Linked DNA regions of Homo sapiens: region 2 is linked to region 1. The links come from fine-mapping of genetic effects on gene expression. A gene starts in region 1. The other region holds a variant in brackets. All regions are shown on one strand. Distances are from middle to middle. Region 1 holds the start of SLC25A39 (solute carrier family 25 member 39). Region 2 holds the start of PYY (peptide YY).

Evidence for each region.
Region 2: its variant is fine-mapped to the expression of SLC25A39 in amygdala (GTEx, PIP 0.95).

Annotation. Positions count from the first base shown.
Region 1 is chr17:44,323,573-44,326,467 of GRCh38, forward strand. It overlaps SLC25A39 (solute carrier family 25 member 39), which reads right to left and starts at 1,251. Exons shown (of 12, transcript NM_001143780.3): 1 at 1,139-1,251; 2 at 1-5. LOC124904009 (a long non-coding RNA gene) reads left to right here and starts at 1,881. Exons shown (of 2, transcript XR_007065768.1): 1 at 1,881-2,049. RefSeq lists silencers at 794-1,013, 1,034-1,463 and enhancers at 1,564-1,753, 1,914-1,993, 2,044-2,103, 2,174-2,895, 2,284-2,333.
Region 2 is chr17:43,951,371-43,954,265 of GRCh38, forward strand. It overlaps PYY (peptide YY), which reads right to left and starts at 2,570. Exons shown (of 4, transcript NM_001394028.1): 1 at 2,480-2,570; 2 at 1,926-2,113; 3 at 1,739-1,819; 4 at 1,363-1,610. The coding sequence starts at 2,113. The coding sequence ends at 1,586. RefSeq lists an enhancer at 1,605-2,108. The variant C/T (reference allele first, on the strand shown) is at 1,138.

The DNA.
Region 1 (2,895 bases):
CAGTCCTGAAAACCAAACCTCAAACAGACCACAACTCCAGGGATGGCAGGAAAGGAGGCTGGGCCACTGTGAGACTTTTGTTTTGAGACGGCGTCTCGCTCTGCGCACTGTTGCCAGGCTGGAGTGCAGTGGCACCATCTTGGCTCACTGCAACATCCACCCCCGTTCAAGCGGTTCTCTTGCTTCAGCCTCCCAAGTAGCTGGGACTACAGGCGCGCACCACCACGCCTAGTTAATTTTTGCATTTTTAGTAGAGACAGGGTTTCACCATGTTGGCCAAGATGATCTCGATCTCCTGACCTCGTGATCCGCCCGCCTCAGCCTCCCAAAGCACTGGGATTACAGGCGTGAGCCACCGCACCCGGCCCACTGTGAGACTTTAACCCAACCCTCATCCACCGCCCTCGAAACATCTGTTGCCTCAACAACCCTGGCAATGACCTCTAAAGCAGGGACTGTCCGCCCCCCTCCGCCGGGGAAAACTAAGGCTCGGGGAGACGAGGTGGCCTGCCCAAGGTCACTCAGGAGTGGTTCCGAAGGAAGCTAGGGTGCCAGACCTATCGCTCGAATGCAGTAGGAGCCAGGGTCCTTCCCTCGTCCACCTCGCACGTGTCCACTGCGCACCTCCTACGTGCAGGCGCGGATTTGGCCCTCGTGGCCCCAAAATCAGAGTACCTGTGCTGCCCCCACAGCCCCCACTCCAGCACCAAGGCCCCGGGCAGGCACCTGAGAGCCCAAGTTACTGGGCGTGGAGGGACGGCCGGGCATCGAGGGTGACGTGTAAACAGATCCGGTGACCAAGAAGGGCCCGTCGCCTCCTCAGGACTGCGGGCTGGGATGCCCGGCCCTCCCCGCCCGGCCGGACGGGCCAGACCCGGGGCCCGGAGAGAAAGAGCAGTCTCTGGGTTCCCGCCCCAAAATGCAGGCCCGGGGCGCAGCCGGGAGAGCGGGAAGTAGGAACGTAGGACCAGGACGTCTCCCCGACCCTCGGCGACACTCCCGGCCCCGAACGGCGGAGAGCCGCCAGGTGAGGGGGACCACGCCAGCTCGACGGCCCCAGCACCTGCCCTGGCTCGCACGGCCGCCCGGAGACCCCCGCTTCCGTCTCCGCCCCCAGCCCCGGCCCAGTGCCGCCTACCTGGCTCTAGGCTGGTGCTCGTGCGGCGCGGCGCCCAGGGTCAGGCGGGCCCATACCGGCTCCGCCGCCTGTGCGCGGTCCGCGCGCGCTCGCAGCGCACCTAGGCCGACGCCGAAAGCAGCCAAGGGGGCCCCGCCCCTACACCGCGCCACGAGGCCCCGCCCGCCGCGGGCCGACCAGCCGCAAGCCCGGAGTGTCCCCGGCTCCGCCCACTCGCGTCTCCGCCCGGACCTGCGACGGTCCCGCCCCCTTGACGGGGCCGCGCGGGCGAGTTCCATGCCTGTCCAGCGCTGAGAGCTGCCGGCCAACTTCGCGGTCTCCACGTCGCGCTTAACGTGGCAGCAGCACGCACTTCCAGCATCTTTTTTTAGACAGCATCTTTTTCAGCCTCGCTCTGTCGCCGAGGCTGGAGGGCAGTGGCGCGATCTAGGCTCACTGCAGCCTTGACCTCCCGGGTTCAAGCGATCCTCCTGCCTCAGCCTCCGGAGTAGCTGGGACCACAGGCGCGCGCCGCCACGCCCGGCTGGTTTGTTACTTTTATTTTTGTCTCCCTATTTTGCCCAGGCTAGTCTGGAACTCCTGGGCTCAAGCGATCCGCCCACCTCGGTCTTCGAAAGTGCTGGGATTCCAGGCGTGAGCCGCCGCGCCGGCCTTAACAGCGCATTTTCACCAGCCCCGCCCCGGCCGCGCGCGGCACTGGAAACCCCAGCGCCTTCTGGACGGCGAGGGTGACGCACTGGCCCTCTTCCTCGGTGTCCTCAGGTGCGTGGCGGCGGCAGTGAGAATGAGTTCTTCGAGATCGCCGGGAGACCACACAATAACGACGAAGTTACTTGCCGGGCTACCCGCCGAGACTTGAAAACTTCGCGGCGACTTCTCTCGCCGGCCTTAGCATCGCCCCCATTTTTCAGGTTACAGGACAGGCCTGCAACTGCAAAACGCTTTGTAAACCACAGGGCCCCGCGCGGGTGTGCGCCACTGGGTTAGCTGAGCTGCAGCCCGGGCCGGGCGGGCTGGGACGTGAGCAAGCCGGGGGAGACGGGAGAGCCATGGGGAGCCAGATCCCACCTTCGCGTGACCTTGGGCAAATCACAACCTCGCCTAAGGCCCGGAATGACTCTGCGCGGAGAGGAAGAGCACTGAGTGCGGGAGGGCATCGACGTTTTGGTGTTGGTTGCTCTCGTATCGTGATTTCTTCTGAGTCTCAAAACTCTTTGCAGTAGGTTATTGTTGAAATAGATTACCACAGGCCGGGCGCGGTGGCTCACGCCTGTAATCCAGCACTTTAGGAGGCCGAGGCGGGCGGATCACTTGAAGTCAGGAGTTCGAGACCAGCCTGGCCAACATGGTGAAACCCCGTCTCTACTAAAAATACAAAAGTAGCCGGGCATGATGGCTGGCGCCTGTAATCCCAGCTACTCGGGAGGCTGAGGCAGGAGAATCGCTTGAACCCGGCCGGCGGAGGTTGCAGTGAGCCGAGATCGCACCACTGCATTCCAGCCTGGGCAACAGAGTAACACTCCGTCTCAAAAAAAAAGGCCGGGCGCAGTGGCTTACGCCTGTAATCCCAGCCTTTTTGGAGGCCGAGGCGGGCGGATCACCAGAGGTCAGGAGTTCGAGAGCAGCCTGACCAACATGGTGAAACCTCGTCTCTACTAAAAATACAAAAAATTAGCCGGGCGTGGTGGCGCATGCCAGTAATCCCAGCCACTCGAGAGGCTGAGGCAGGAGAATCGCTTAAACCCGGAAGGCGGAGG
Region 2 (2,895 bases), 370 kb before region 1:
ACAATTAGCTAGGTGTGGTGGTGAGAACCTGTAGTCCCAGCTACTCGGGAGGCTGAGGCAGGAGAATCACTTGGACCCAGGAGGTGGAGGTTGGAGTGAGTCAAGATCGCACCACTGCACTCCAGCCTGGGCGACAAAAGCAAAAACTCCATCTCTAAAACAAAAAACAAAACAAAAAAACCCCTGATCCGCTGCAAGGATGCCCCCAGCCTTCCTGTCGTTTTTCCCCTCTCTGGGTCACAGGTTTTGAAGTCAACCTGATTTCCCCCCTCATCTCCTAGTGCCCTGCTTCAGATTTGGGCAGGTCTTGCTGAACTGGAGTCCCAGAAGAGAGCCCACAGATACAGGAGGCTGTGTCCCAGGAAGGAGACATAGGCCCTTCCTTCTTGAGGCCCCAGGAGGGAGACAGGACACAGAGACATAGAACTCTCAGTGAACAGAGCAGAGGCCCTGAGAGCTGGGCAGTTAGAGAGGGCAGGAAGAGTGCAATTGGGCAATCAAGGCAAGCTTCTTGGAGGAAAGGGGCAGGGAAGGGTGGATGTCAGGGGAGATCAGTCTGCAGGCAGGCTCTGGAATAGGTACAGAGTGGTGAGGGATTCGAGTTGGATTCCAGTTTAAACATCCACAGAGCCTTTAGGCTTCAGTAGCTAGTCCAGGGGAGGGGGGTACATGGAGGGTGTCCCTATGGCCTTGTCACTAAGAAAGAACAGTTCGTGACTTATCCACTGCGTGTGAATTCAGCGAGATTGGGGAGGGAGGTTTCTTAGGGATAGGGCAGCCTCCACACTCCCATTGCTCCTCTACTCAGGGAAAGGGGGACGGTAGAAATGGCCTGCCTCTCCGGCCAGCACACGTACAGCCATCTCACCCCCACACGGCTCTTCCTCCACAGCCCCATTTTGGATTACACTTCACCTCCAGCCACTCCAGCCCTGGGCGCTAGTACTACAGCTCCTGGGGAAACGCCCCGGGGTGTTGGTGCCCGACTCGTCCCCCAGCCGTCTTCGGCTTCACGGGGTGGGGGAGGGACAGCCCTGACCCCATCTGCTCTCCTAGGCTGCCTAGCAGGCTCCTGTCGCCGCTCCCCGCCCCTTCTTCCAGAGTTCCATCCACTCCTGCCCCCACTCGACCAGAGTT[C/T]CTTCCACAGCAGTTCCTGGCCTGGGCGCTGTCCAGCTCCAGGCTGGGTGGTCGAGTCTTCCCTGGGCTCCGAGCAGAGGGAACTCCGCAGCCCGCCCCAGCCTTGTCCTGGGGCGCCTCTGTCCAAGTCGGTTTTCTCTTCCCTGGCCCCCACGCCTCCACCCTCCACTTCTACGGGATGCCACCTCCACGAAGGAGAAAGGAAAGGAAATACAAAGGCATACATTCCGTTTCTGTGGAATTTGCTCTTTATTTTGGGACCAGGGAAGGACCACACACAGCCCTCCAGCCCAGGGGGCGGGGGCACCGAGACGCGGGCGGAGGGCCGCACCCGAACCCTGCCCAGACGCCGCCGTCGGGAGGCAGAATCCGGGTTTCTGGGGTCGGGAGTGCGTATGCAAATGACGTGGGCGTGGTTGGCAGATCTCCCAGGAGGCCTCAGGGGTCCTCACCACAGGTCTGGGCCCTCCGACCTGCGGAAGCGAAGGGGAAGGAATTGGATCTGGGGAGGCGAGCCTGGGAGACGTCGTTAAGTGATGTTGCCAGGGTAGGGCCAGGCCGCGCTCTCGGATGCAGGATGTGTGGTAACGGGCGCTTTTACCGCGACCTGACGGGGCGGTCCTCGCCGTCGGGGAAGAACGTTTTGGAAAGAAGCGTGTCCGGGCCGTCTCTTTTCCCATACCTGGGGGCGGGGAAGGGAAGAGCGTGGTCAGATCTGGCCACGCCCCCAGGTGGAGCGGGGCCGCAGGGTGAGAGCCCCAGGGGTCCCGCTCCGCGCCTGCGCTCACCGCTGCCGGGTGACCAGGTTGAGGTAGTGGCGCAGGGAGGCGTAGTAGCGGTTCAGCTCCTCCGGCGAGGCGTCTTCGCGGGGAGCCTCGGGTTTGATGGGGTAGGCGTCGACCAGCGCCCCTAGGCAGACGAGCAGGGCCAGAAGCACTGTGGTCAAGGCGGGCCACGGCCTGCGCACGAACACCATCTGGGAAGGCGACATTGGGACGTGGGTCATTCCAAGCCTCGACCCTACACGGCGGGAGGCTGCGGCTGCCGTCGGGGCCGCGCTCCGACGCTCTCCCTGGGGCTGGTACCGGACCAAGGCTCAGCCACCGGGCTTGCTGTGTGTTCTTGGGCACTGCACCGTCTCCTGACTCAGTTTCCTCATGTCAGAGGAGCATAAGCCCTGCCTGCCTCCCCACCCCCACCCCCGCTGCTGGCCTCCTTCCCACCTCCGATGGCCCCCTCCAATCCAGTTTCCTACCACTCACCCCCAGCTTCCACCATCCCAGCCTCAGTTTCCCCACAAAACAGCCTGGGTTTCCCCAGGCTTGAGCCCCCAGCCACTCACAGCGATAGCTTGTGAAGCAGACGAGCAGGAGGTGGAAGGCGAGGGAAGTCCCAAGGGCTGCACTGCCGCAGGTCAAGCTGAGGCCTCCTCTGCTCAGCGCTTTCCTTGTGGGGCTTATATCCCCGCCTGGAAAGGGAGGGGGAGTCCCAGGGGGAGGGGGAGCCAGCAGGGGGTGGGCCCTTCTTCCTCCCTCCTTCCACCCTCGCCAGATCGCTGAGCTTATACCCAGCCAGTGCGTGATGTCTCCACCTCGCAGGAGCTGAGGGGGCAGTTGCCATGCTCAGATTCGTGGTCTCACTGGATGGGGTACCCAGCCTGAACCCCATGTTCACCCCACAGCCCCCCAGTGGCAGGTCTAGCCTCCTGAGGAAGTGAAGCGGTTGGATCTAGACTCCTGGGGCAGCCCCTAGGACCAG